Homo sapiens: one gene and its partners. The protein of the gene in region 6 interacts with the protein of the main gene of each other region in a biochemical or structural test. Each region holds a gene or a part of one and is shown on either strand. Other genes may lie near its edges. The genes, in order: TNKS2, RXRA, SOX10, NUP153, PTPN5, MAPK1 and ITGB6.

Region 1 (4,395 bases), on a different chromosome or scaffold from region 6:
TGCCTACTTGAGCCAGCCTTCCTTATAGGAAGCTAAAGCTTTCTATTTTTCCTGATGGTAGCTGCTAAGCACAAGCAGGAAAAAAAAAAAATCTCAAAACTCTCAGAAGTTACATAAGCCTCTCACCAAAGTTATCTGTTGTTTTGGTTTGTGAGAGTTCTCATAACAAAATACCAAAGACCAGGTGGCTTAAACAACAGAAATTTGTTTTCTCACAGTTCTGGAGGCTAGGAGTCCAAGTTCAAGGTGTTGGCAGAGTTGGTTTCTTCTGAAACCCCCTCTTGGCTTGCAGCTGTCTACCTTCTCAGTGTGTCCTCCATTGGAACATGGTGTCTCTTTCTATATGTCCTAGTCTCTACTTTTAAGGAAACCAGTCAAATTAGATTAGAGCCCACCCTAATGGGCTCATTTTAACTTTTTTAGCTCTTTAAAGGCTCTGTCTCCAAATAGAGTCATATTCTAAGGTACTGGGGTTAGGGCTTCAACATAAGAATTTTGCAGGGTACAATTCATTTCGTGACATTTGTTTTAAGGTTTCACTCATAAAACTGGCACAGTGTACCTTTGTTTTCAGTGCAAATATACAATATATTGTGGTTTCAGTACAGCTTTTTCAGCTGCATTACAGATGTTAGGAAATCATTAAAATCACTGAGCTATAGCTAATACCTCAGTGGAGTTCCATCATAGACACAGCGGACTCATACAAGTTTGTCTAAATATACATGATTTAAACATGGTATAAAAAGCAAGAAAAAATAATGCAAAATTTCTGCCATTTCGTGTAATGTGGGAGATGGAAATGTATGATGTTCATTTCAGTCTTGTATTATAACTTGGTGTTATACATGATTTTTACCTTTAAATTCTCACTCCATGTAAGTTGAGACCTCACTGTCCAAAGAAACCAATTACTCTATGTGTCTTTCAAGTATTTTGGAAGTGATAAGCCACAAATGCTAACATGGTGAGAAAAAGCTTTACTTCCACTGGCTATCAGGAGTTTCTAGTCCATGCAAGACAAAATATGACTTGACCTTTGATTGGAAGTTGTGCTGTGCATATTTATGTTAGCTTTTATATCTTTCTTGTAGCCTATCTAGAACACTTAACATTACTGTGTCCAAGTTGTCTTTGTAAGTCACAAATAATTTGTATGCATAAAATATTTCTGTCCACTTCTGCAGCGTTAAATACCATACCTTGAGACCTAGAAAGACTTTTAGATTAATGTAATATTTTATGGTAGTTTTATAATTGTATTCTTCTTTACTTGATCTTTTTAAATTCTTTTGCTTTAAATCCTTTAGCAAAAGGATAAAAACTATAATAGAAATAAGTTTTATTTCATGGCTTTAACAGCACCTAAGTTCCTCTACTAGACTTGCAGAGATGTGTACCTCTGAGTTCTCTCTAGCAAAAAAGCATGCTCTTGTGGCCTTCTGGGGAAGAGGACTCTGAGGCCCACTCTGGTTTGACTTGTATGTGATTGCAGACCTTTGACTTGCAGCCTCTGAGACCCATGTACCTGAGTTCAAGAAGTGGTATGTAACACCCATGAAGGCAGAGACTTTGGTAGGAAGGTTTTCATAGGAAAGATACAAGCAAATCAGTCAATATAATTTTGGGAATCTACAAAGCTAATTGATAACACAAAAAGCTTCCAACTTGAGGCAAGGGGGAAATGTTTTCCAGAAGGTAAATTGTTAATAGAGTCCAATGAGCTATTTCAGATTTATACAAAATCTCTTTTTTTATGTTTTCAGTAATGTCTATGCCTTATAAATACATATATATATGTATACATGTAATGACTTTTTTATGTTAACAAGTGGAAGTATTATGACATAGGACTAAAAAAGAAAAAACAAGTAAAGTAATTTTACTTCTTTTCTAAATTAGCTGGTTATAATAATTTAGAAGTTGCAGAGTATTTGTTACAACACGGAGCTGATGTGAATGCCCAAGACAAAGGAGGACTTATTCCTTTACATAATGCAGCATCTTACGGGGTAAGTTCTTCCGTGTTACCTTTAAAAATTTGTGGAATTTTAAAGTGAAAGTCAGTATTGCAGCTCAAATGGAATGTAGTTTGATGTTCTCATTTTACAGAGAAGTAAGTGGCAGAGCTAAAGAAGTTAAATAACTTCCAAATTTCGGTTCTGAATCTGTTCTAAGCTTGCTGTGTGATATGCGGTGTATTGTTGTTTGTTTTATTATCTGCCTTAACACCTGTCTCTTATTTTCAGTGAGATGTTGGTGATTGTGTTTATTTGTTGGTACCCAGAAAATCCACTGGGGCACCAACGGGGTAGATGGAATCTGTACAGATTCAGATGCATTGTTCCTGACTTATCATAGTCCAATGTGACATTCAAAATTGACCATCTTCAATGGTATAGTTTGAATAATTGAGGAAGATTGCTGCTTTATAAATTGACATTTAGTAGTTATAACATTTGAATAAATTAGAAATTATTGAAGTCATATTAGTCTAGTTTCCTGCTAAATAGAATTCTTAACTCTTTTCTAGATAGTTTCTCAAGTTATTGAAATGTCCACTGTAATTTTTAATCAGCTACTCATAAGTTGTGATGTTGGGGAGAAAGAGTTTTTCTTTTCATTTCCAGAATAAGTTTGAAAATGTGGAAGTAGGTACGTAACTAGTTTCATTTTAAGAAAGTAAAGTGTGACAAAATAATATTTCAGACTGTAACGGGTATTTTCTTTTACAGCATGTAGATGTAGCAGCTCTACTAATAAAGTATAATGCATGTGTCAATGCCACGGACAAATGGGCTTTCACACCTTTGCACGAAGCAGCCCAAAAGGGACGAACACAGCTTTGTGCTTTGTTGCTAGCCCATGGAGCTGACCCGACTCTTAAAAATCAGGAAGGACAAACACCTTTAGATTTAGTTTCAGTAAGTGATGGGCTTTTTGAAAAATCTCAGTGCTTTTCTGACTTGTTAAAATTCACTTGATGTTATTATAAAATGTCTTTATAGTCAATGTGAATGGCAAAATCTGGGTTTTAGCCTGATTTTAATGTAAGAGTTCTTTAGTATTAAAATATAATAGAATTATAAAGTAATATAATTATCCTTCTGTAGAATAGAATTATCAATCAGTTATTATATACTGAGTATTTTGGAAATAGGAAAAAGAAGTACATGATATAACTGCTTACGTTAGTTAGGAAACTAAACAGACCCAGGCCCTCAGAAAATGCTGTTACTTATAGTGCATACAGCGCAGATGGTACAGACCATGGGTCTTACACACGGCCCCAACTGGGAACATTGCCCCCCAAGGTGCAGCCACAAACCCTGCTGCCAGTAGAGATTCCTTTTCCTCCCACACTGCCTCATCCCAGAGTTCTTGTTGCTCACCCTACCTTAACTGTTCATGAAACAAGTCTATTATCCACTTTCCTGTGGAGGTCCTGTTTTCCTTCCCCTCTCTCCAGAGCATGGAGCAGGTGTAGGAGCTTCCACTGAACCTTCCACCTCTGCTTTGGGCACTGAAGCAGATGCCTCTCTTGCCTCTACCACTGAGGACATTGACTAGAGCAGTGGAAAGAAAGGAGGAAGGAATTCTTTTTGAGATGAGAAGGAAGGGGAATCTTTTCTGCAGACTGCTTTCTACTGAGAAAGATTACATTGTTCCACATTACAATAAGAAACTGAGGTAGTTCAGCTGCATTGGTGCTTAAGTAGGTTTTTCTCAGTCAGCTAACAACCCAGCCATATTTACAACATTATCTCTTCAGGGAAATATCTTTCTAGTTCCAAGTTACCTTAAAAGTGAACATTTGGAATTCATTCCACCCATATGTTAGTTGACCAGATACAATTAAGTTACAATGAAGCAAAATGCTGTAGAGAACATACAGGGGCTTTAGAGTCAGACAGACTGGGCCTAGAATTCCAGCTGCACGATTTAAGTTGTACAATCTTATGAACTGCCTAACCTCTAAACCTTAGTTACCTCATCTATAGATAGAGGTAAAATATATCTGGTTAGTATGAGAATTAAATGGGGTAATTTACTTAAAGTCTTTGGCATGGTATCAGGTACATAAAAAGCACTCAATAAATGGTACTATTATTATAAACAAATGTCATTTACAAATTGTGAGTGCAATGGGAATGCATAGACTGGGGGAAGAGAAAGGTGATGACTGGAATAGTCAGAACAAATGACTATGAAACAAGTACTAATTTATTCCTTGCTGAACATTAGTTGAACGTTGTGAAAGAAGAGTACATATTACAAATTAAACAAATTAATGTACCAATAAATGTGAGGACTTTTTTCCATTCTAGCAGATTTTTTTTAATTTTTATTTATTATTATTTTTTTGAGATGGAAGTCTCACTCTGTCACCCAGAC
Region 2 (4,395 bases), on a different chromosome or scaffold from region 6:
GGTCTGGGGAAGGGCAGACAGCTCCGAGGCAGGCATGTCGGAGCCGAGGGGCATCCCCAGGCCCACTGGCTCCTCTGGCTTGGGTAGTGGCAATGGCTGAGTCCTTCCTCCGTCCCTTGTGCAGCCCAGGGCTGGGCCCAAGACAGGCAGGACCGAACTCCACCAAACCATTCTGGCCTCCTCTTAAGGGTGGGGAGACAGAGACCCAGAGAGCAGCGCCAGAGGCCACACAGCAAGCTAGAGTCTCTAAAGGGAGTGACTTACCTTCCCTCCAGGGCTTCAACCTAGAGCAAGGCATCAGAACACGAGAACCATGCACACACACGTGCACACAAACCATGCAGACATACACACACAGACACACAGAGACATACCACACCACACATACCACACCACAGACATATCACACACACACCACACGCACACCCATACACCACACAGACATACCACACCCACACCCACACGTGACCACTGCTCTCCAACCCCACCACCAGCCACGCACAGCACTCTCATCCACCCCCAAGCTCGCAGGGGTCTTCCTGATGCCCCCAGCCCATCACAGATGAGGAACCTGAGGACTGGGCGAGGCAAGGTCACTTGCCCAGTTCACAGGCCAGAAGGCAAGAGGGCCACACTCGAGCCCAGCCGGGGCTCCCTTCCCACAGCAGAGACCTGTGGGTCAGCCACATCCCTGCAGTGCACGCACATGCACACACGTGCACACATAGGTGCACACACGCCAGACCCTGCTGTTTCCACACCCAGTCCTTCAGAGCTGGAGGGTGGGCACAGGAAGCAAAGGCAGGCAGGAAGGAAATGGGAAGCAGCCTTCCTGAGGGAGGAGGAGGAAGCAGAATGGGGGACAGCCACTGCCCCCTCTAGACCAATGTCTCCCCCGACGACCCTGGGTGGAAGCTAGGTCTTTTCCATCGGACTGGGAACCCCCAAGGGTGAGGCCTGTCTTCCCCATCAGAGCACGTGTCCCTGCGGGACCCCCAACCCCTGCCCCCTCCCCGGCTTCAGCAAACAGGCCCAGGCTCAGCTTGGCAGAGGGCCAACACCCACCACTGCACGTCCCCCCACCTCTGCCCACCCCTGGTCCCGGGAATGCTGCGGAACGAGTCCCTCCTGGTGGCTGCCTGCGCGTGCAGGCCCCATTGCCCAACCTGAGATGCTATCAGCCTGTGGTATCCTACCGCATAGGGGTGGGAACCCATCTGCCCCAGAGCCAGAGTGGGCCTTTGCCGGGGGCAGAGTCACCGCATGGGGGCACCTGGGCCATCCTGCCTTCAGCCAGCCCTGGGACCAACCCCAGGCGACTCCCTCGCAGCACTGCACTGGGATGCGACGCCTCAGCTCCAGCCTGTTTCTAGGGGTCTGATCACAAACCGGGCCGAGGGACCACTTGACACCAAGGCCAGTGGGCGGAGCTGCCCACCAGGGGGCCTGACACTTAGGAGGGCTCAGTCCCCAGAGCCGACAGCTCCCATCCTGCATGCTCTGGGCCACAGGCACCTAGTGTTGGCCAACTTGGCCCCATAGCTTTCTCCAGGGCTGCTGCAATGCCTCACCCATGCAGCCAACAGCCCTGCCCTCCGCTGTCGGGGAGCCTGCCTTGCAGTGGTTTGCCCAAGAGGAGAGAGGGGAGTGCTCTGCACTTCAGGACCCATCTGGAGCCAAGGGGTCTTGCCCAGCACCCAGACGCAGGCCGGGGAGGAGGGTGCCTGCCAAGCCCTCCCAGCCACCGTTTCCACGTGGGGTCCCTGCAGGGCGAGTGCCTGGGCTGCACCAGGGGCCCCGTTACTGCCCAAGAGTAAGGAGCTCCACAGGCCTGGCTGTGCAGCCCACACAGCCAGGCTGGGGGAGGCAAGAGACTCCCCCTGTGCACAAGGAGAGGCACTGGCAGCAGGGCACGTTTGGCACGGGGGCCTCACTGCCTCCTCACCGCCCACGCAGAGGTGCCCTCCACACCGAGGCTGAGTTCTGCAGCTGTGTTTGGGGCGAGAGCGCTCGGCAGCATTCTGACTGCAAGTTCACGCCTCAGAATCCTGCTGGAGGCAAAGGGGAGGAGGTCCCTTGACAGCAGCAGCAGTTTCTCTCACGGCCCTAAGTCTGGTCTCCAGGGCTTATGCGCTGCCAAGAGGAAGGACTGGAAGCAGGAAGGACCGGCAAGAAATGGGGGCCACGCCTGGTGCTGGCCCTTAGACCTCCCCACGGCTCACCTCTCTATACCCCATTTCTCTGTCTCACAGGTATGGGGCGAGTGAGACCATGTGTGGGGATCAGGAAGGGGGTGTCCAGGGTGGTCCCCCACATGAGCTGCTCCTAACAGGACCCAGTCACCGATGGGCACCAGGGGAGCGGTCTGACCAGGTGATTCCAGGTCCCCCCAGCCCCAACACTGCACGGTTCCACTGGGATGGGATGGGGTGTCGTCCCCAGGCTTTGGGGGGCCCAGGCAGCTGGAGTCTGATGATCCCAGGCACATGGATGACTGGGCTGCAGGGCCTTAGGAAGGAGTCAGTGCAGCCTGGAGGGTCCGGGACGGGGCTCAGAAAGGCCATCACCGACTTCCGAGGGCCAGGTGTGATGACAGCCTCAGACTTCACGGACACTGCTCCCTGCAGCCAGGCCTGTGGTGCCGACACCTTTTCATTCCTCAGGCGTCAACAGCCCTCCTGCCTGCCTGCGTCTCACCGGGTGCCCGAGGCAGGGTCAGGTGCCTCCTCTGGGCTCCCACAGTGCCTGAGCTTCCCCTAAGCCTGCACTGGCTGCCCCCTGGGCCCCCCCTGGTTATCTGATGATCACTTTCAAAGGACAGCGAGCTTACTGCTGCAGGCCCAGGCCAGGCATCAGCCATGCACAGCGCTCTCATCTGCCCCCAAGCTCGCAGGGGTCTCCCTGAAGCCCCCAGGATCTGAGAGTGGTCTCGGCTAAACCAAGCTCTCTGTGCTGTGGCATCCTCACAGAGACTGCCAGGCTAAGGCTGCACACGAGGCCTTCCCCCCCCAGCTCCAGCCACGCCTCGGGCCTCCACCCCAGAACAGGCCAGTCTCCACGCCTGGGCACAGGGGCCCCGGCCACTGCCTACTATGCCTGCCCCTGTCCCAGTTTCCATCTTCCAGGGACAAGGCTGCACCTGCCACCACAGCAAGCCTCCCTGCCCACACCAGGCACCCGGAAGAACCAGACTGGGTCCACACCTCTCCAGGCTGGGTACACACCTCTCCAGGCTGGGCACACACCTCTCCAGGCTGGGCACATGCTCCTCTGCCCTCTGGTGAAAGCAACAAGGTCTGGATGGGGGCCAGGGCCCAGCATGTGACCCTGCGCAAGGCTTGAACCGTCTGCCCTCGGTTTCCCAACCTGCACAGCACAGGGTGGGCCTGAGCAAACGTCAGCACTCCATGAAACACGAATCCCCATCAGAAAGGCCTGACTGGCAGCACTGGGCATGGCCACACCAGCTCTGGAAGGCAGCTCTGCTATGCAGGCACAAGGACCTCACACCAGCCCATACACCACACTCAGCCTCGCAGCCCAAGGAGGACACCCTCCAGGAGCACGGCGCCTGGCAGAGGCTCTGATTTCTCAACAGGACCGTTAAGGCTGAGAAGACATACACAAGAGAGATGATGAAATGAAACTGCAGCACCAAGGTGGCCACTCAGGACATCCCTGACGGTGAGACAGTGGTGTGGGTCCTGTTTGGGGACCCCACCAGGGGCTGGCGGGGAGGAAGTAAGACACACCAGCCACACAGGTGTTGGGCCTCAGGAGCAGCACAGCAGAGGACAGAGGAAGGGTGTCCTGCAGAGCGGGGGGACAGGGACAGACCAACAGATCTTCACCCCAGACAGCACCTCCCACCTCCACAAGGCCCAGGGCACGGGACCCGATGGGAGGAACTGAGGCACACCCCCAAACGTGTGTGCAAACCATGACCCAGGGACCCACTAAGAGGCCAGGAATCGCCAAACCTGAGAGGGAAAGGGGATGTGACAGATGGGGAAACTGAGGACTACAGCCAGCCAGGACTGGGAAGTCACAGTGCCTGTGGGGCCCGGGACTCCGACCCAGGTCTGGCTGGATGACTTGACAATTTTGGTGACATCGGGGGAGGGACTTCCCTGCAAACCGCCCCGACACAGATTTGTTAATAAGACGAGCACAAAAACAAAAGGAAAGGAGGAACTGCTCCAAGAGCCTGGGGGCCATCCGGCGGCCCTGCGGGGTGCCACAGAGTTGGCCTCGGGAGGAAGCTGGCCCGGGACCACCCCTGGCATCCAACAGCTCAGAAGATGCCCCCGCTCCACCTCTCCAACCTAAGCAGTGCCACCTGAGGGTCTCCTTGACCATCCCCTCACCGGACAGCCAACGCCAGCCAGAACATGC
Region 3 (3,621 bases), about 16 Mb from region 6:
ACTACAAGTACCAGCCCAGGCGGCGGAAGAACGGGAAGGCCGCCCAGGGCGAGGCGGAGTGCCCCGGTGGGGAGGCCGAGCAAGGTGGGACCGCCGCCATCCAGGCCCACTACAAGAGCGCCCACTTGGACCACCGGCACCCAGGAGAGGGCTCCCCCATGTCAGATGGGAACCCCGAGCACCCCTCAGGTGAGTGCTGATGACAGAGCTGAGGGTGGGGCAAGGCCAGTCAGTGGAGACAGGAGATGGCTGGATGGCAATGAGACCCTGGACTCTAGGGAGAGCGTGCCAGGCTGTGCAGTTGCCCCAGCAGAGCTGCAGGGGCCCAGAGGGAGCTCCATGGGGGTTCCGGTGCCAGGGGAAGTGGCTGGGTGAGATGGCTCTGGCCAGGGCTGATCCTACTGGGCAAAGAGGGCCAGTTAAAGACTGTGGAGGCCGCCGGGTGTGGTGGCTCACACCTGTAATCCCAGCACTTTGGGAGGCCGAGGAGGGCAGATCACGAGGTCAGGAGATCGAGACCATCCTGGCTAACATGGTGAAATCCCATCTCTACTAAAAATAAAAAAAATTAGCTGGGCGTGGTGGCGAGCACCTGTAGTCCCAGCTACTCAGGAGGCTGAGGCAGGAGGATGGCGTGAACCCAGGAGGCGGAGCTTGCAGTGAGCCGGGATCGCGCCACTGCACTCCAGCCTGGGCGACAGAGCGAGACTCTGTCTCAAAGAGAAAGAAAAAAAAAAAGACTCTGTGGAGGTCATGGAGTGAGAGGTGGCTGGGGCAGTTACAAGTAAAGGGGGAGAAGACAGGATGGTTTTGAGAAATGGAAGAGCAAATGGAGGAGAGGAAATCACTGCCTCTTTCCCACCAGCCATTCTTTTTTTTTTTTTTCTGGAGACAGAGTCTCACTCTGTCGCCCAGGCTAGACTGCAGTGGCATGATCTCGGTGCACTGCAACCTTTTCCTCCCGGGTTCAAGCAATTCTCCTGTCTCAGCCTCCCAAGTAGCTGGGACTACAGGTGCACACCGCCACGTCTGGCTCATTTTGTGTATTTTAGCAGAGACAGGGTTTCACTATATTGCCCAGGCCCAGTCTCAAACTCCTGAGCTCAGGCAATCTGCCCGCCTCGGCCTCCCAAATCCCACCAGCCATTCTGACAGAGGAGACATGGCATGTGATACCGTGTCTGGCCATGGATGGGCCAGACATAAGCTATCTTGTTTAATTTTCATTAATGATAATAACAGCTAACCTTAATTGAGCAGCTACTCTGTTCCAGGCACTGTGCTAGGTGCTAGTTGCCTTATGTATACTAACTCAATCCTTGCAAACAATGTGATGAGGTACCCAAACTGCCTGGGCTCAGATCTCAGCTGTGGCAAGTTACTCTCATTTTACTGATGAGAAACAAACAGGAACTTCCCCAGTTTGGCTCCCGGGCATCTGCTTGGCACCACAGCTGCCTTGCCTGTGTTCCTAATGTACAGAAAGTGACACACACAGGTCTGCCACATGGGAAGTGCTCAGTGAGCAGAGCTCTGCCTTCAGAGGACACGCTCTGAGTCCTACTTTGTGTCAAACACTGGAGTGGACACCAGGGGTACTAACCAGAGAAGCCTACAGTCCCTGGCCTCAGGGGCCCATAGTCTAGAGAGAGGAGCAGGGATGAAAACGAGTGAATTAAGTACAGGAAGAAACAAAGCTAGGCATGGTGGAATGCGCCCGCAGTCCCAGCTACACAGGAGGCTGAGGTGGGAGGATCACCTGAGCCCATGAGTTTGAGACCAGCATGGGCAATGTAGTAAGACTCTGTCTTTTTTTTGTTTTTGTTTTTGTTTGAGATGGAGTCTTGCTCTGTTGCCCAGGCTGCAGTGCAGCGGTGCCATCTTGGTTCACTGCAACGTCTGCCTCCTGGGTTTAAGCGATTCTTGTGCCTCAGCCTCCTAAGTAGCTGGGATTACAGATGCACGCCACCACACCCAGCTAATTATTGTATTTTTAGTAGAGATGGTTTTTCACCGTGTTGGCCAGGCTGGTCTCGAATTCCTGACCTCAGCCTCCCAAAGTGCTGGGATTACAGGCATGACCCAGCACGCCCAGCCTCCTATCTCTTACTATATATATAGTATATATATAGAGAGAGAAACAAGTGCACAAGAAGTCTGTGTGAGATCCAGAGGTGGCATGGCCGTCTATCCCATCCAGTCAGGTCTCCAAGAACACCCCACTGCCCACCAGACTCTTGTCAAGGAAGGCTTCCAGAAAGAGGCAATGCCTGGGCTGCTTGGTACAATCTCTATTTTACTGATAAGGAAACTAGTTAAGAGAAGACTGGGGATTTGTCCAGACACAGAACCAGGATTCAAAAGCCTAGGCAGGTCTCTTGAAGTACAGAGCCCTTGGCCAATGCAGGACTTGGCGCTGCCTCTGGTCTGATGAAGGAGGCACAGGCCTGTCCTTGGGGAGCTCCTAGTCTCTTAAGACCATGGACATGTTCTGTCTCCATTGGGATGCCAGGCAGTCATCCCTCCCACACACGTGTACATACTCTTCACCTTCAAAGATTCAGGGACACACACACACACATCAGGAGACCCTGGACCACATACAGAGCAACCACCTCAGAATGAAACTGGACACAGACTTTTTCTCACCCTTCAAGGCCCCACCCCACTCAGACATCCTTCCCTGATCAAACCTTCCCCAAATCCCTGAGGCAGCGGGTGGACTCCTCCTCTGGTCTCCCAAGTCCTTGCATATTGTCACCACAGCACTTCCAACTCTGGGTGCATGTGGATCTATGGATCTATGACTAGACTATGAGCTTTTGGGAACAGGGATCCATTTTATTTACATTAGTATCCCCAGCACCTGGCACAGTACCTGGCATTTTGTAATGCTCCCTAAGAGTTTGCTAAATTAATATGTGAATAGGAAAGTGAACAGACAAAGGAACAAGGACCAGTTTTCTAAGTGCCCTCCCATGGAGGAAGGCAGCTCAAAGAACAACAGGGCAACACAGGCCAGCGTATGACGGGGCTAAGGGCTTGCCAGTGGGCTGGGAAGCAGGGTGGGCTCAGGAGGAGGGAAGGGTTGGAAAGGACACAACATGAGGCCAGGACAGGGAGCAGGCCCAGGCAACCAGCAAAGGTGAAACAGAGCACTCAGGAGCCTGGGCGAGCGAGGCTCAGCAAGGAAGACAGTAGGCATGGGTGTGGAAGCGGGGCTGGCAGAGCGCAAAGGCTGGGCCAGACCACCTGGACAGCAGAGAAGCTGATGAGAGGAAGAACTTTCCACAGGAAAGGTTTTTTCAGAATGAGGCAGGCCTCCCCAGGACCCATCCCTAAGATTTGAGAATTTCATAAACAACTAGAGATCAATCTAAGACACCAGTATTTAAACAAATGCTGTGGGGCGCAGTGGCTCATGATGGTAATCCCAGCACTTTGGGAGGCCGAGGCAGGTGGATCACCTGAGGTCAGGAGTTCAAGACAACCCTGGCCAACATGGTGAAACCCCGTCTCTACTAAAAATACACAAATTAGCTGGGCATTGTGGTGGGCGCTTGTAATTCCAGCTACTCAGGAGGCTGAGGCAGGAGAATCATTTGAACCCAGGAGGCAGAG
Region 4 (4,395 bases), on a different chromosome or scaffold from region 6:
TAATGCTTGCTCTCTTCTCTTTTCTCTTCTCTCCTCTCTCTTCTCTCCTGTCTTCTCTCTTCTCTCCTCTCCCCTCTCCCCTCTCCCCTCCCTTCTCCCCTCCCCTCTCCCCTCTTGTCTCCCCTCCCCTCTCGTCTCCCGTCTCCTCTGCTCTCCTCTGTTTTCTTTTCTTTATTTATTTTGAAGTGGAGTCTCACTGTTGACCGGGCTGGAGTGCTGTGGCGCAATCTTGGCTCACTGCAACTTCTACCTCCCGGGCTCAAGCAATTCTCCTGCCTCAGCCTCTCAAGCAGCTGAGACTACAGGCACAGACCACCATGCCTGGCTGATTTTTTTTGTATTTTTAGTAGAGATGGGGTTTCGCCATGTTGGCCAGGCTGGTCTTGAACTCCTGACCTCGGGTGATCTGCCCGCCTTGGCCTCCCAAAGTGCTGGGATTCCAAGCGTGAGCTACCACGCCCAGTCTGATGTTTAACTTTATAAACATTGCTTCAACTCTGTAATTCTTCTGTTTTTCTGTTGCCTTCCTTTTTTAAATGCTTGAGTGAATAACACATTTATTCACAAGATTTAAAAATCAAGAAATTGTGACAAGGTTCAATCTCTTCTCTCCATTGTCTCTTTTTCCACCTTCCCTCCCACTTCCAAATGTAACTGTGGTTAGTTTCTTGTAAATCTTTCAAAGTTTCTTTATGCCCATCCAAGGCAAACATACATACCCCTATATATTCTTACTTCCTTTTACCTTGTTAGAAAAGTCTGTATACCGCACTCCCTTTCTGCCCCTTTGATTTTATCAGGGATTATCTTGGACACATCTTTGTTCTTCCTTCTTCGTTTATAGCTGCCTGGATTGCATATGGCATTTTGCATGTCTATGAGTTTATCTTTAAAACAAACTCCAGCTATAGAATTGCAAGGTCAAAGGGTATATGCATTTGTAATTTTCGGTAACTATTGACAGATTGCTCTCTATGAGTTTTGTGTTCATTTATACACCCACCTGCAATGTGTAGCCTGTTACTTCCAGTCTCATCACTAGTACAAACTTTATCAAACTTTATCGCAGCCAGTCTGATAAATGAAAAGTGGCTTGTCAGGATAGTTGTGAGGATTGAGATATCATTCTCATACCGACTAAATATAGGTCACCTTGGATTATGTTTACAGCTGCTGGTAATACTCTTCAAAGTAGGCCCTTTCAAAGTTACTCCTATGTTTCTTTGGCTTTCACAGTGTTTACATTTTGTTTGAGAGGATCAGTACATTGAGTGTCTATGTGGTGTCTTTTATATTTTTGTAGGCTTTGACACATCTTCCTCATCTTCGAACTCAGCAGCCTCCTCATCCTTCAAATTTGGTGTCTCATCATCCTCTTCTGGGCCTTCTCAGACTTTAACAAGCACTGGAAATTTTAAATTTGGAGATCAGGGAGGATTCAAAATAGGTGTGTCATCCGATTCTGGGTCTATAAACCCCATGAGTGAAGGCTTTAAATTTTCTAAACCAATAGGAGATTTTAAATTTGGAGTTTCATCTGAATCTAAGCCCGAAGAAGTTAAAAAAGATAGTAAGAATGATAATTTTAAGTTTGGACTTTCTTCTGGTTTAAGCAACCCAGTTTCTTTAACTCCATTTCAATTTGGGGTATCTAATCTTGGACAGGAAGAAAAGAAAGAGGAACTGCCCAAATCTTCCTCTGCAGGTTTTAGCTTTGGTACAGGTGTTATTAACTCCACCCCTGCTCCTGCTAACACCATAGTGACCTCTGAGAACAAGAGCAGCTTCAACCTTGGAACCATAGAAACCAAGAGTGCTTCAGTGGCTCCTTTCACATGTAAGACATCAGAAGCTAAAAAAGAAGAAATGCCTGCCACCAAAGGAGGATTCTCTTTTGGCAACGTGGAGCCTGCCTCTCTGCCATCTGCCTCAGTGTTTGTTTTGGGAAGGACAGAAGAGAAACAGCAAGAGCCTGTCACTTCTACTTCCCTAGTTTTTGGGAAGAAAGCTGACAATGAAGAGCCAAAGTGTCAACCAGTGTTTTCCTTTGGGAATTCAGAGCAAACCAAAGATGAGAATTCTTCAAAGTCCACATTTAGTTTTAGTATGACAAAACCATCTGAGAAGGAATCTGAACAGCCAGCAAAAGCCACTTTTGCCTTTGGAGCTCAAACTAGTACTACAGCTGGTAAGTATTAACTTTTTATTATTATTATTATTATTTTTTTTTTTACAAGTTGTCGTTTTACAAGTTGCCTTGACAGATGCAGCAAGTCAATTAATGGTTTACACTGAACATAGTTGAGAAATACAGAACTCTTTGGGAAGGAACCTAGGATTTTCAGTTTGAACTGCTCTTTAAAACCCTCATGATTCTGGTGAAGTCATCTGTGGATCTAATTTTGAGAAATACAGCAGTAATGCAAAGCTCAATATAGTGCATATTTATGTGTGTCTTTCTCTTCTGTTTGGGCTTTTATAATCAGAATTGGTATCTACTACCTGGAAAATAAGGATTCTTAGCTTATGAAGTATTTTCTACCATAATCTATGGGAAGGCCTTTATTTACAAATAGTTACAGATAACCAGTCCTCATCAAACATTAAGAAACATAGACAACAAATATAATTAATCCTGAGAAAACAAGAGATTTTGAAAGCTGAAGTCCTGGGGAAAAAAATGACATAGCACCTTAAAGGTTAAAAGCATGATTGTTGGTGGATCCTATTAAAGTCATTCTGTGAGCTGAATAGCAGGAAGAACTTCATAGCTGATAATCAGATTAGTGAACTAGAATTTCCCCAAACTTAGTGCACCAGTACAAAGAGTGATCCAAGTTAGATCCACAAGTTCCTTTGGGATAGGAGTGGCCTAGAAGATAAGAAGTTTTGGGGAAATATCAAAGAAGTGACAGAAGAAAATTTTCTAGATCTAAAGAAAGACATTGGTCTTAAAAATGGAAATTACCTATTGGCAAAGATCACTGAAATTTAGGACACCAAAGCTAAAACCCCAAATGCTTTCAGAGAGAAAAGCTATTTGCCACAAATAGGCAGGTATCAGATTAGCATCATCTTCTAATTTGTAACATCACATGCTAAAAACAACAGTGCCCTTAAAGTGAAAATGTTCTTGAACCTAGAATTCTGTTACTAGCCAAATGTGTTTAAATATAAAGACAATCCGGGTGCCGTAGCTCACACCTATAATCCCAACTAGTCGGGAGGCTGAAGCACAAGAATCTCTTGAACCTGGGAGGCGGAGGTGGCAGTGAGCAGAGATTGGCCCAGTGCACTCCAGCTTGGGCAACAGAACAAGGCTCTGTCTCAAGAAAACCCAACAACAACAAAAAAACACCAACACAAAGGCAAAATACAGATGTTTTTAGATGTGCAAAAAATGCAAAAGTTGAATATCCATGAATACTTTTGAATAATAAATTGGAAACACTCAAAATTAACCTTTAAAAAGTATGGAATTCAACAAATAGCTATGAGCAGTTTTTTGTCTGTTATATATTTACTTAGAAATATAAAGACAAAATCAAAACTAAAATTACATATTATTTGGAAAGCAACAAAAACATGATAGGGTCTAATCAGATTTGATGATGAAAACACCAGGCTATGGTAGACACTCTTAACCATTCTTCCATTAGCCAGGTTGAAAGTAAGCCAACATGTTCCATTTTCTGTAAGTCATACTAATGCCCATAGTGTACTGTGACCAGCCCTGGATAGTGTGCGGTATTGGAACTGAGAGATTATTGGAATAGTTTAGAAAAAAATCTTCAATAAGGTGGCTGGATTCAGAATCACCATATAAAAATCAAAAGTTTTTCTTCAAATCAGCATGTCTCATTTGTTTTTCCTAACATTTCTAACTTGTATTTTATAAAAGCAGCAGAACTTGTAACATGCCAAATAACTAAAAGAACACAAAAGGCATACTTGTTGCTGGGTGAAGGTATTCCCTTCCTCCTCCCATAATTTTAGTTCTTAGGGGAATTTTTGTAGAGCTTGACAAGCTAAACTTATTCTAAAATTCACATGGAAAGGAAACCACACAAGAAATTTTGGGAAGAAGGGCAGGCACACAGGCAGCTTTGTCCTACTAATATCAGTCCATGGTATAAAGTTATAATAATTAAAACAGTCTAGTGATAACAGTAGAGGAAACAAGTATATGCATTTTAGGAAATGTAGTGTGTGATAAAGACAGCATTGCAAATTAGTGCACAAAGGCTGTACTAGTTGATGCTGTGGAGAAACTTGGCTATCCATTTAGATAAATTGAAGTTATGATTTTGCCACATACTGTAATATAAATTGCAAAATAAAACATATAAAAGTACAGCTGTCTTCCACTATCTAAGCTTGCTATTCAACTACAGT
Region 5 (4,395 bases), on a different chromosome or scaffold from region 6:
AGAACACAGGGCCTCCCCGACCCCTGAGCTCCCAGCCGTACAGGGTTCTCCTGAGAACTCCTGTCTGTGGAGGCCTTTCTAGGAGACTACTCTTTTGATGTACATATTTGTGAGGTCCTCTCTGGAAAGGGCTTTCTCTTGGTTCCCTTCAGTCAGCTTTTCTCCAAGGAGAGTCCTGAGGCCTCCCCGGGCACGCAGCACCGGGGCCCTGCTCTCAGCTGCCCGGTCTGGACCTTAGAGGTTCAGGAGCCTCCATGCAGGGCCAGGTTGAGGCTGCAGGTGAGCTCTGCTGGGGGAACACGGGGGAAGGGGGCCGGCTCCATACTCAGCCTGCTCCCCTGTGCCCCAGCTTGCCTGTGGGGTGCTCTGGTTCAGCGGTTATGGCCACATCTGGTCACAGAACGCCACAAACCTCGTCTCCTCTTTGCTGACGCTCCTGAAACAGCTGGAACCCACGGTAAGTAAGCTTTGGGGAGTCCTAGGGTAGCAGGGATCTGTTGGGGGCCTCTAGTCCCACCCTCCCCAACCTCCAGATTGGGCTTCTCTGAGTTCAGAAGATACTTCCAAGCCCCTGAAGTTCTTCTGCCTGCTCCCCATCCCAGACCTGGGACGTGATTTTCAGAATCTTGGTTTTGTCATCATTGCAAGAGCTGAGAACTCTGCCCCCACCACCACCCTGACCTGTTTATCTGATGTTCCCCAGGCCTGGCTTGACTCTGGGACGTGGGGAGTCCCCAGTCTGCTGCTGGTCTTTCTGTCCGTGGGCCTGGTCCTCGTTACCACCCTGGTAAGGCGCCTCCTGACCCCAACCTCAAGGCTGTCCTCCTCTGACCTTGAGGCCTGGATTTCTACCAGCTCCCATCTGACTTATAGGCTGGACATTCTGGGTGGGGCAAGGAGGGATACCTATCTCTTTGCACAAGTGTGCCAGCCTGGGGCAAGAGCCTCCTTCTTTCCGAAAATTGGTTTGCAGTGATCTGGGCTAAGGAAAGGGGATGAGACAGGGAGAAGACTGGTGTAGGAACTCCCAAGCCCCACTGAGAAGGCCTGAAGCCACAAGAAACAGAGAGCTGGGAGAGGGAGGGGCAGGGAAGGAGAGTGGGCATGGAGCCTCCCATCGAGGCCAGGGGCAGTGCCTTGTGGACAACTCCCAGGAGAGCAGAGCTGCTCTAGACACACTGAGGGAGTGGGGGGGCGTCAATCCCATGGGCACTCCAGGAACACGGGGGGCAGCCAGCGTGGTCCGAAATCTGTGATGCTGTACACCCCAACCAGGTGTGGCACCTCCTGAGGACACCCCCAGAGCCACCCACCCCACTGCCCCCTGAGGACAGGCGCCAGTCAGTGAGCCGCCAGCCCTCCTTCACCTACTCAGAGTGGATGGAGGAGAAGATCGAGGATGACTTCCTGGACCTCGACCCGGTGCCCGAGACTCCTGTGTTTGATTGTGTGATGGACATCAAGCCTGAGGCTGACCCCACCTCACTCACCGTCAAGTCCATGGGTCTGCAGGAGAGGTGGGAGGGGTGGAGGAGGGGTGGGCTCCACGGGCCCTTGAGCTCTTAGCTCCTGATCAGAAGAGTGGATGCCTGACTCTGACTCCTGGTGCCCAGGGCAGAGCTGGCCTTATAGCTTAGCCAGTGTAGACATGTGCTATCCAGGTCATTCATAGAGATCAAAGTGCCCCAAGATGAATGCTGAGAAATACTGTTACTGCACACGCACACATAGGTGTACACATGTTCACACACACTCTCCCATGCTCAAGTAAGTTTGGGTGGTTTTCTTTGCTGCAGGACTTGTCAGGGCCTTTAACATGCTTATGTTCATTGTAAATCAGCAAGGGGGCAGTATGTGGCATTTCCCAAAGTCACTTGACCACGGAACTCTATTTTTTTGTTTTACTTTTATTTTGGATTGAGGGGGTGCATGTGCAGTGTTGTTACCTGAGCATATTGCATAATGCCGAGGTTTGGGGTACAAATGATCCCATCACCCAGGTACTGAGCGTAGTGCCCAGCAGTTAGTTTTTCATCCCTTGCCCGCCTCTCTCCCTCCCTCCTCTAGTAGTCCCCAGTTTCTATTGTTGCCATCTTTATGTACCTGGGTACCCAATTAGAACCTGTTTTTATAGGGTAGCTCATAGTGTTCCACAGAGCACACTTTGAGAAGTGTAGACACCCTCGTTTCAGAGTCTAGGTGGGTGAGCCAGATCACACCAAATTTGAGTTACCCATGTGATGTCACAGAAAGAACACTGGGTGTGGAGTCAGGAAACCTAGCTTTTTATTTCAGCTCTGCCACCCCCTTACTGGGAGAGCCTGGACAACTCTTGGCCCTTCATGGGGACTCAGTTTCTCTTTCTATGTAATGAAGCCCCATCCTGTCCTGTGTCTGAGACTCTGAGTATAGTAGAGTTTGCCCATTGTAGACATCCTTGCGGCCACCGTGCTGCTCCTGGGACTCCCTCCTTCCTGACAGCGGGGGTCCTGGCCTCTCCTGGACAATATGTCCTTGACTCACCAGCAGCCTCATCCCAGGGCTGTTGGGCCCGGGACTGCAGTGGGGAGGGTCTGGAGCCATCCTCTCGGGCCCAAGCCCCGCTTCTGTGCTTCAGGCAGGTGTCCCCTCTCTGAGCTTCCTGGGGACCACAGGGTAGAACTTCCTCCAACGGTGATGGAGGAGAGTCCAGGGTAAGGCCATGTTGGGGTAGCTTTGGATGGAACTTTTAGAACTGGAGCCCCAAATCCCCACTAAGTTAACATCTCCACTGCAGGAGGCAGGAGATAGGGAGTCAGGCCAATGCCTCAGGGCTGAGATTCACGCTTCTTTGTCAGGGGGTCTTGTCACACTCCCACTCCTCTTCCTCAACCCCACCCTGTTCCCAGCTGATCTCTCCCTCCCTCATTTTCCCAGCCCTGGAGACCCCAGCTCATGCCCGTCCCTCTGCCCCTGAGGCTCACACTCCCTTTCCTGGTCCTTCCAGGAGGGGTTCCAATGTCTCCCTGACCCTGGACATGTGCACTCCGGGCTGCAACGAGGAGGGCTTTGGCTATCTCATGTCCCCACGTGAGGAGTCCGCCCGCGAGTACCTGCTCAGCGCCTCCCGTGTCCTCCAAGCAGAAGAGCTTCATGAAAAGGCCCTGGACCCTTTCCTGCTGCAGGCGGAATTCTTTGTGAGTTCCCTTGAGCCGGTCGCCCCACTGTGTGCAGACCCATGTCAATCATCCACCTGCCCAGGTGGTGGAGCGTGGTGCCTGGAACTCAGCATCTGCAGTAGATTAGTATCACTTTATTATCAGCTCTCCCACCATCTTGGGCAAGCTGCTTTCCCTCTGAGCTTCAGTTTCCTCATCTGGAAAATGGGGATGAAAATAATAGAATTGTTGCAAAGATTAAAGAGACTTATAACATGTGCAGAGCACCCAGCCAGGTGATGGAGGTACAGTGACAATGCTAAGTCTTTATTGCCCAGTGCTGTGCTCTGAAAGCCACAGAGAACCTTCACTTCTAACTCTTCTGTTTTCCCACTTTCCTCCTGCCGAGCATTGTTCTTCTGCCTTTGAAATCTCTCTAGTGGCCTCCCCTCGTTACCACCCCTGGGGCCCTAGCTTAGGTCCTAATCACCTCCACCCTGGCTTCTGCAGCAGCCTCCAGCTGCCTCCTATTGGACTTTGAGGGGCTCAATAAATGGCACCCCTGTTTACCTGCCTGAGTGCTCAGCCAGTTAAGAGCTAAGGCATAGGAGATTACAATATCACCTTTGTTGTCAATAAAATACAGGTTGGAAATGTGGCTTAGCAGGGTACAGCAAGAGTGAGCCTCCCGATACTGAGACCCAGAATTACATGCACTTTCCACCCTCCACAGGGGTGCCGGCACATCTCGGACCTTGCCGCATGGGGGCACCCCTATAATTCTTTCCTGGCAGGAGGGCCCTGAGAGGAGGAGGAAGGAAGGGGCTGAGGCTCCAAAGCTCCATTCCTCAACCAAATTCACCAAACAGGTAACTCCTCACTTCTGTGAGCAGGAAAAGGCAAGAGGCCAAGAGTATCTGGGGTGAGTTCCTCCTGGTAGAAGCCACAGGGGTACAGAAGCAGGTGCCTCCTCCCTCATAGCTCCCTTCCTTTGGCCTCCGCCCTGGGCCTGTCTGGACCGGGTAGCTCTCCCCTGTGAGAAGACCTCCATCATCATCTGATCTGCTGCTCCAAGTTCTCCAGAACTTGGTACCACCTGCATACACCATCAGCACCCCTTACCTCGTGTGGCCCCAGCCTCCTTTTCCAGCCTTATGCCCCATGCCCCACCCCTGCAGGGACTGTCCACTTCAAACTGGGCCAGTCTCGTCCGTGCCTTTCTCCTCCTGTGCCTTTGCTCACATCATCACTCACTCCA
Region 6 (4,395 bases):
AGGTGAAATGCTTGTTTTTTTTGGGAAAGTTTCTTGCTCTGTTGCCAGGCGGGAATGCGGTGACACGACGACGGCTCACTGTAGCCTTGACCACTCAGGTTCAAGCGATCCTCAGCCCCAGGCTCCCAAGTAGCTGGGACTATAGGCACGTACCACCACACCTGGCTAATTTTTTTTTTTTTTAATTTTTAGTACCTTTAGTACAGAAAAGGCCTCACTATGTTGCCTAGATTGGTCTCAAACTCCTAAGCTCAAGGAATCCTCATGCCTCGGTCTCCCAAAGTCCTGGGATTATAGGCATGAGTCCTGCACCCAGCCTAGCTGAAAATACATTTAATACACCTAACTTACCAAACATCACAGCTTAGCTTAGCCTACCTTAAACATGTTCAGAGCACTTACATTAGCCTACAGTTGGGCAAAATCATCTAACGCAAAGCCCATTTTATAATAAAAGTGTTGAGTAACTCATATGATGTATGAAATACTATACTGAAAATGAAAAACAGAACAGTTGCGTGGGTACTCGGAAGTAAGGTTTCTACTGCATGTGTATCACTTCCATACCATTGTAAAGTCATCTGACCACCAAGCCAAATATTTGTACTTCTGCACATGCTGCTTTACATAGAGACCGAGACAAAGGGGGATTCACATCTTGTCAACCCTGTTTACTTCAAAGGAATAACAGAGCATTAACTAGGTACCAAGTGCTCAGGACTTCAAGTATACTGTTTTATTTAATACTCATGACAATCCTTTGACCCCTTACTTGTGACTGGCAAGTTACCCAACTTTTGTTTCATTTTCCTCATCTGTAAAAACCGGAGAGTGATACACACTCCCTGGAGAATGACAGGGAAAACAGTACCAAGAACTTTAACCTAACAAGTCAGAAATCAATGAGACCCCTTTTGACAATTCCCACCTTGCCCTTTAGACATTCCGAGATATGCAGCTTTATTTAATAAATGACCCCACCTTGGGCCTCAGCTGACTAGACCAGAGGCAGACACTCTCCCAGGCTGGAAAGGCCAGGTGGAGTGAGCTGTTCTGTGCAGAATGATCTCCCTAACAGTGTTTTTACACATTCTGTTCCACTTGGAATTGGATTCAGAGTGTTCTCAGCCTCTGGTCATCAAAAAACCTGAAGACACATACCTTCAGGGAGCTAGGGTCAGCTCTCCTCTGCTGAGTGCATGGGGAAGTGACAAAAGAGAAAAGAGGGGGGAAAATCCAGCTGCTGAGAGATGTAGGGTACAAGAAGCTTTTGTAACTGTAAAGAGGGAGGGAGGTAGCTACGTTGGTCTATTTTCCAGTTCCTGGTTCCAACTATACCTAAAGCTTTAACTGCACTTTCTATCCTTGCAGTAATATGACAAAGGCCCCCAGATCTTAATCATAAACTTTTCATTTTCTATAATGCAGTCTCTACAAAGTAGTGCCTAAAACATTCCAGCACTCTACCCTACCTTTTACCCAGCTAGCTCTAAGTCTTCCTTCAGGTCCCAGCTTAAACACCACTTCCTCCCGGAAACCCTTCATGACTACTCAGAATATCTTATATCATCCAGTGGCACTCCACACCTCACCATACTCAGTAAATGTTATTACTGCCCTGTTGGACTGTAAACACCAAAGAGTAAGAACAACTTTTGTTCACTACTTTGTTCCTACTGCCTAGCACATAATCCGGTACGTGTTTAATAATATTAAATGAATGAAAATCAAGAAACTGGTAGAGGTAACTAGAAGGAATGGGAAGAAATCAATACTGCTTCCTGATAAAAATTAAGTTGCTAGATGACAGATCCTTTGGAGATAAAGAAAAAACAAAAACAAAAAACAAAGTTACTTTAACTCTAATCCTTTCTAGCCTCTTCTTCAGGTCTGTCTGCAATGGCATAATCATTTTATACTTTAGGGCTAATCCATTCAGGAACCCAGGCTGTAGGAAGTACGTTTCTAGGTAACTCGGTATAACAGAGAAAAGCCTATAGTAGTTAAAAGAAAAAAGGTCACAGGATTTGGGGTCTGCATAAATCTCAATTTACATCTCAGTTCTGCAATATACTTACTGGCTGTGAACCCTGAACGAGTTACCTGACACCCAGTTCCCTTATGTGTAAAGTGCAAAATATAATACCTCAAAGACAAGGATGACGGTCAGGCGCGGTGGCTCACACCTGTAATCCCAGCACTCTGGGAGGCTGAGGCGAATGGATCACGAGGTCAGGAGTTCAAGACCAGCCTGGGCAACAGGGTGAAAGCCCATCTCTACTAAAAACTACAAAAAAAAAAAAAAACTTAGCCAGGTACAGTGGCAGGCACCTGTAATCCTAGCTACTCAGGAGGCTGAGACAGGAGAACTGCTTGAACCTGGGGGCAGAGGTTGCAGTGAGCCAAGATCGCGCCACTGCACTCCAGCCTGGGCAACAGAGTGAGACTCTGTCTCAAAAAAAAAAAAAAAAAAAAAGACAAGAATGAGAATGAAGCTTAAACCAGCAAGGCAGGCTTGCAACTAACATTAGTCAGTTGATCATGGCATATTATCCATGCAGACACCTGCTATCCAGCTCCTACTGGCCATAGGTTCAAACCCCAGGGCCTGCCTTGAGTCTGAGAATCTGGGAGGGACCTTGGAGACCATCTATCCTGTGGGTTGCCCAACATCATTTTCAAAGCAATCAAATCCTTTTTCCAAATGGGATCTTGCCCTGCTAACCCTAATAGTTACTACCTATGTGAACTGAAGATGATAATGACTAAAAGGAAATTAAGAAAAAGAAAAAAGACTAAGGGCAGAGGAAGAAGGGAAACGGGAGGGGAAGGAGGTAGATAAGAGAAGAGCAAAGAATAGAAAAAACAGGGATTAGGGGAGAGAATGCTGTATGTGAAGTTTCCCTATTTGGGGTGAGGCCTGAAGCCCCTAAGAGAGGAGGAGATTTGAAAACCACAGACAGAGCCCAGTCCTTTCATGTTATAGCAGGGGAAATAGAAACACATAAATTTTGTTCAGCTGCCTATAGCTTTCTCCTCCTGTGGTTCTGCTCAGTTTCCAGAAAGCCTGGGTAACGTCTGAATCCTCCTGGAATCTCTCTTCTTCCTTCTGGTACGGTGTGGGCCATTTCAAAGCTCAGGCAGGTGGCCTTTCCTAGAGGGAGCAGAGACAGCGCAGCTACTGGATGAGCTCCTAGGCACCTTTCAGTGTGGGAGCCTCAAGAAGTGAAAGAAAAAAAGCAAATCTAAAGGGGAGCAAAATAGCATCTCAGGATTAGGCAAGAGGGTGGGTGGAGTAGGCCGGAGGCAAGGAGCTCTAGATGTTTGTTGGGGAATGAGGTGTTTTTCAATTAATAGGTATATAAATTGTGAGCAAGGTGAGGAATAAATTACATACAGTTTTGGGGAAAAGTCAACTTGAATTTACACAAATCAGATTATGGGAATGGTGTAATGGTTATAGCTAACTACCAGGAATACATCATTAGGGATGCTATTAATATAAAAATTAATTTTGTTTTGACTTATCCTTTTACTCTAAACTCTGCTCAGAAACACTAGATTCTTCTGTTACTCATGTAAGCTGCTGTCCTTGCATCTTTGAGCTCCAAAAGTGTAGAGGAGACTTCTTGATTAAAAAAGTTAAGTAAACAATGAGCAAGCAAAATTAAGAATCTCAATATCTCTGTCTCCAGGTCTAGAGTTTTTATATATGATATATGTTATTGCTGTTCCTGCCTTTCAAACAGGTGGTACAAACACCCAGCAGAGATCCATGAAGAGAGTGCATTAACAGGAAGCAATAGGGCAAAGTTCATAGAGATGAGCTTTAGAGAAAAGCGGGACTTAAATAGAGCCTGATGTTTCTTGGGGCAGGCTGGGGTGCTGTACTATGGGCATCTTGGCAGGATGATTCTCCAGTGGAGGGAGTGTACCGTGCAATCCAGACCATTTAGCATGTCTGCCCTTGACATGCCTACTGACGGCCAATAACACCCCCTAATCAACGTGACAACACAACAAAAAGCCGCCCCCCTATACATTTCCAAATGCCTCTGTAGCAGGGAGGTAAAATCACCCCCACTGAGTACCACGAGATAAAGTAGGCACAATGCGGCCAGGTGCAATGGCTCACGCCTGTAATCCCAGCACTTTGGGAGGCCGAGGCAGGTGGATCACCTGAGGTCAGGAGTTTGAGACCAGCCTGGACAACATGGCGAAATCCTGTCTCTACTAAAAATACAAAAATTAGCCAGGCATGGTAGCACACACCTGTAATCCCAGCCACTCAGGAGGCTGAGGCAGAATTGCTTGAACCCAGGAGGCAAGGTTGCAGTGAGCCTCCAAGCAAAACTCTGTCTCAAAAAAAAAGTAAGTAAGTAGGCAAAATGGGCA
Region 7 (4,395 bases), on a different chromosome or scaffold from region 6:
TTGGATCGTGATTTGAACAGTCCACCTGTAAAAATACATTTTTAAAACAACTGGAAAAAGGCTGGGCATGGTGGCTCACACCGTAATCTTAGAACTTTGGGAGGCCAAGACAGGAGGATTGGATCACTTGAGCTCAGGAGTTCGAGTTGGGCAACATGGCAAAACCCATCCCTACAAAAAGAAATACAAAAATTAGCCAGGCATGGTGGTTCACACCTGTAGTCCCAGCTACTTGGGAGGCTAAGGCAGGAGGATCACTTGAGCCAGGAGGTCAAGGCTGCAGTGAGCCATGATCATGCCATTGCATTCCAGCCTAGGTGACAGAGTGAGCCCCAGTCTCCAAAATAAATAATAAATAAATACATAAAAAGACTGAAAAAAGATTAATACATGCTGGGTATTAGAATGATAGCAAATAAGTATGGTTAATTTGATTAGGTATGATAATGGCATGGTGACATTGCTAGAAAATATCCATATTTTTTAGAGATGCATACTGAAGGAGTGAAAGGAAATGAAAGCTGGGGTTCACTTTGAAATAATTCAGCCAAGAGAGTGGGATGGAGGGATAGTTGAAGCAGGTGTGGCAGAACTGTGATAACTGTGGAATCTGAGCGATGGGTCTTTGGAGGTTGGTTATATAGCTTTCCTCTTTTTGCGAATGTGTGTATTTTCCATAATTAAGCAAAATTCCTCAGGAGAAGATATAATTTACTCATCCCTAACAATGTAAAAGGTAAACAGGTTAGCTTGGTGACTTAGAACACAGTACTAATGAGCCCAAAGTTGTAGGACAGTTCACTTCACCTGACCCCTGGCCACAGATGTTATTTTTGACTTTCATCAACTCTCCAACAAATGCCTTGCCATGGTTAGAAGGGCAACCAGGTAAAAGAATATGGTTAAGTTGCCACAAAGGACAATAGCAGCAAGCCCCATGATATAATCCTGGTATTTCCATTTTGAAGAGCTAAACTAAGGCTCAGAGAAGTTAAGGGACTTCCCTAACTTTTGGTGCATGGTTAAGCTGAAGCCTAATTGTTCATTGTTCTTCTAAGCACAGCCTTTGGTTGACCCTCCTGGAAATAATAAGCAGGTGTTCCACAAACACGCACTTGGGCAATTATGTGATGTGTATCTACTAACCAGCACATTTCAATGTTCTCATACAGAGGCATAAATACTGACAAGTGATTAATATCTTTAAAATAACATTTTAATTAACAGTTAATTTCCCCAAAAACATGAATTGTTCTCCCTCAGGATGTAGAACATGACTGAAATTCAAATGCTGAATTTTTGCTGTTTCTTCATCTAACATGCGACCCGAACATGCATTAAACAGAAAAAAAAGCATAAATGGAAAATATTATTCCCTTATTAAATTGAGTTTCTTTGAATAACAAATGTTTGATGTTCCTGACTAGATAATGACTGGGTAGTAATTATTCACTTGGATGCAAAAAAGGTTTAACTCAAATAATTCAGTTTAAATTTCACTAACATCCTACTGGAAAAAAATGTCGCTCACTGCACACATTTAGGGGTCTTCAATTTAACTGAGTTTTTTCCCTAAAACCTATTTCTTCTTGAAGAAGTGAATTTGACTGGTCTTTGAAACCCAGTGCCCTCCAGAGACAATAGGGACAGTCAGGCCTCCTGGCCATAGGACTGCACTGGACTCATAAAGTGACAGGGCTTAAGACAGAAAGGTCTTCACTCCTACCTCCTAAAACATTTCAGAGCAGCTGTAAAGAAAGGTTATCTTTTTTATTATGCTTTAAAAAATAATGCCCACCCCCACATATTCTTTATGAAAACACAAATGAAACATATTTAAATTCATCTTTGATTAGAATTTTTTTTCTAGGATGACAAGTCATTAACTTGAGGCAAAAAAATGTTCAGCCTGACATTTCTTGCAGTCATGAATTGATTTTGTACTGTGCTAAGCAAATCAGGTCTGTGTTTGGCAGTTGGGCGATCATTAAGGAAGCTGTGGGTCATGACAGAGTTTTCCTATTACCACTTTTTCAATCTTGAAAAATGTGTCATTGCATTTGCAGAATCCACAGCCTAAATTAGCACTCCCAGACACCTGGGGGAATCAGCCTGGTAACCCCAAATGGTTAGGGGAAAACTGACCTTTTCTGAGCAGTGGATTGCACACTCACCCGAAATAGAGTAGGACTCAAGCCTGCATTTCAGCTGGAAAGTCTGTGTAGAGAGGTTACAATCAGCAGAGCACTAGAGGAGGCAGTGTGGACATTTCCACACCTCCTCCTGGAACAAAACCCAATGTGAGTGCATTATCCTGACCTCTGATCTTCAGCTGAGGCCAGGAAATACCCTATTACACACAACAGCAATATGTACTTGCTCTTCGTCCACTTTTACACTTCCACCTTACCCTCTTACTCTAGTGAAGTCTGCTTTACCCATCACTCCCTATAAGCAATGTCTTGGCCCTAAACCAGTATTGCAAGGGACTCCCAAAATATTGCAAACCTGAATGAATGAAGTTGCTTTAAAATACGGAATGAAAACTCTGCCATCAAAATTAAACATTCAACTAAATATCTACTAAATAACATTGTGTTATCTTGTCAACTGCAATTCAAGTCACCTCCTCTATAATGCATATCAGTTATATTAAGTGTGGGATATGGGTGTATTGTAGTATGTTTGACATGATATAGGGTGCACCTACAAACAAGTATCTGGTCCTACGGAGCTCTAAGCTGGCCCTGCTCACAGCCTGTGTCCTCTTTCCAAGTGTCTTTTCTGTTCACAAAGGTGGGAGCTTCCTGGAGGAAGTGGGAAATTCCTCCAGGACAGGCTTACCCTGTCATTGCTGGCCTGAACCTCTTACTTTTTTCCATCTTGTTTCTTCAATGGAGTCTCTCATTCTCCTGTAACCAACTAGATTCTAGTCTCAAATTTAATAGAATTCCATGCATGATTTTTGTTTGCAAATGAGACTCCATCTACATCTAAATTCACATCAGTCTGCCCTTTGCCTTCAAAATCTCAAATTCTTAGAGCAGCAAGACTAGATAAGATCTGGAGGTCCCTCAGAATTAACCAGGCTGCTCTCAGGAATAGAAGCAATATACCAACTTAGCTTTCACCCATCATCCACCACCAGCCAAGGAACATTTTTCTGTTTGGCTTTATTATAGAAATAGCATATCTCTTTAAAGGCACATAACAAAAGTAGCATGTCACTTAGTCAGAGGTCAGGCCACTGGCTCTGGACAACATAGAAATGGGTGCAGGTGTGATTCCCACTCACAATGAGGGCACTGAGGCCAGTGAGTGGGAAAGACCGGGGAGTGTTTCCGATTTTATTCAATTCTTTTAAGAGCTGAAAGAAATATACTGAGCAAGCAAAGACAATTAAGGTTTTTTTTCAAATCCACCCCTAGAAATTTCTACCATAGCTATAATTCATGGAATGAGGTGATCAAAGTATAAGATTTTAACTTAGAAGGTCAGAGGCGGTACCTGGATTCCATACATACTCAGTAATGGGCTTAGAAATGTTAAGTGTACCAAAGCCCTGGGGGAAAATATCTTAATAATCCTCTCTAAAACCTAAAAGAAAAGGAAATTCCAAATGTGAAGAAAAGCTATAAATAGGAACTAATGAGAAGAGGCAGCATTTATGGAGCATTTGCTATGTGCTACACACAGTGCTAAAATACTTTACCTGGACGAGGTAGGAACAGATAGGGACACCAAGGCTCAGAGTGTCTTCAGTACGGTCATGTGGTGGAGCTGGGTTTGGACCCAGACTGTTGCCATAGCCTGTGTGATCAGCCTTGGAAAGTGGGAGAGAAGAAACTGTACCTTACCCAGACACCTTCCTCCGGCCTGGAACAACTAGAGAGGCTTGATCCTTCTGGACCTTCTGGTCCTTTTGGCTACAGCACCACTGCTATTGGCACCTGGAGGCACATCTATAACCCAAACAGCACAGCTGAGCTACCCAAGAGTCCCACACCCAACCTTCCCACTGCCCCCAAGGCAAAGCCATTTTTCCTGGCCTGCCTTTGGACTGCAACTCTTTCATGACCCCAGGGTCCTCCATACCAGTCTCTTGTGGTTGTCTTACACAGTGTTGTACATAGTAAGCAAAAGACAGCTGGTTCTTTGGCTACCCAGGGCAAGTGTTAGCTGTCCAGAGGATGGTTCCTCACTCCTCCCAAGCAACTACTTTCTCCCACTTCTGAGTTTTGATTTCATCTTAGCATGATTATTTGTGCCCTTCTTTGATGCCTCTCATGAGTAACACGTTTGTTAAAGGCAGATACTGTGTCGTTCATTTTTGTATGTTCCTACTGGTTTCACTTTTCCTGTTTTTTACTTTTTTGGCTTTGATTTCACTTTTGG

What was found.
Region 1: of the proteins of MAPK1 (region 6) and TNKS2, one has a biochemical effect on the other in vitro, tested with the Homo sapiens proteins (one study listed by BioGRID).
Region 2: of the proteins of MAPK1 (region 6) and RXRA, one has a biochemical effect on the other in vitro, tested with the Homo sapiens proteins (one study listed by BioGRID).
Region 3: of the proteins of MAPK1 (region 6) and SOX10, one has a biochemical effect on the other in vitro, tested with the Homo sapiens proteins (one study listed by BioGRID).
Region 4: the proteins of MAPK1 (region 6) and NUP153 form a complex in vitro, tested with the Homo sapiens proteins (one study listed by BioGRID).
Region 5: the proteins of MAPK1 (region 6) and PTPN5 form a complex in vitro, tested with the Homo sapiens proteins (one study listed by BioGRID).
Region 7: the proteins of MAPK1 (region 6) and ITGB6 interact in a test that uses a peptide from one of them, tested with the Homo sapiens proteins (one study listed by BioGRID).

The regions. Positions count from the first base shown.
Region 1 is NC_000010.11:91,843,017-91,847,411, forward strand, and holds part of TNKS2 (poly [ADP-ribose] polymerase tankyrase-2), read left to right. Parts: intron 1-1,902; coding exon 1,903-2,012; intron 2,013-2,735; coding exon 2,736-2,924; intron 2,925-4,395. UniProt on the Homo sapiens protein: Poly-ADP-ribosyltransferase involved in various processes such as Wnt signaling pathway, telomere length and vesicle trafficking.
Region 2 is NC_000009.12:134,409,322-134,413,716, reverse strand, and holds part of RXRA (retinoic acid receptor RXR-alpha), read right to left. Parts: intron 1-4,395. UniProt on the Homo sapiens protein: Receptor for retinoic acid that acts as a transcription factor.
Region 3 is NC_000022.11:37,974,435-37,978,055, reverse strand, and holds part of SOX10 (transcription factor SOX-10), read left to right. Parts: coding exon 1-189; intron 190-3,621. UniProt on the Homo sapiens protein: Transcription factor that plays a central role in developing and mature glia.
Region 4 is NC_000006.12:17,626,448-17,630,842, reverse strand, and holds part of NUP153 (nuclear pore complex protein Nup153), read left to right. Parts: intron 1-1,303; coding exon 1,304-2,188; intron 2,189-4,395. UniProt on the Homo sapiens protein: Component of the nuclear pore complex (NPC), a complex required for the trafficking across the nuclear envelope. Functions as a scaffolding element in the nuclear phase of the NPC essential for normal nucleocytoplasmic transport of proteins and mRNAs.
Region 5 is NC_000011.10:18,739,384-18,743,778, reverse strand, and holds part of PTPN5 (tyrosine-protein phosphatase non-receptor type 5), read left to right. Parts: intron 1-349; coding exon 350-457; intron 458-703; coding exon 704-787; intron 788-1,275; coding exon 1,276-1,517; intron 1,518-1,891; exon of another isoform or gene 1,892-2,986; coding exon 2,987-3,176; exon of another isoform or gene 3,177-3,355; intron 3,356-4,395. UniProt on the Homo sapiens protein: May regulate the activity of several effector molecules involved in synaptic plasticity and neuronal cell survival, including MAPKs, Src family kinases and NMDA receptors.
Region 6 is NC_000022.11:21,857,022-21,861,416, forward strand, and holds part of MAPK1 (mitogen-activated protein kinase 1), read right to left. Parts: intron 1-4,395. UniProt on the Homo sapiens protein: Serine/threonine kinase which acts as an essential component of the MAP kinase signal transduction pathway. MAPK1/ERK2 and MAPK3/ERK1 are the 2 MAPKs which play an important role in the MAPK/ERK cascade.
Region 7 is NC_000002.12:160,102,202-160,106,596, reverse strand, and holds part of ITGB6 (integrin beta-6 isoform a precursor), read left to right. Parts: intron 1-4,395. UniProt on the Homo sapiens protein: Integrin alpha-V:beta-6 (ITGAV:ITGB6) is a receptor for fibronectin and cytotactin. It recognizes the sequence R-G-D in its ligands. Internalization of integrin alpha-V/beta-6 via clathrin-mediated endocytosis promotes carcinoma cell invasion.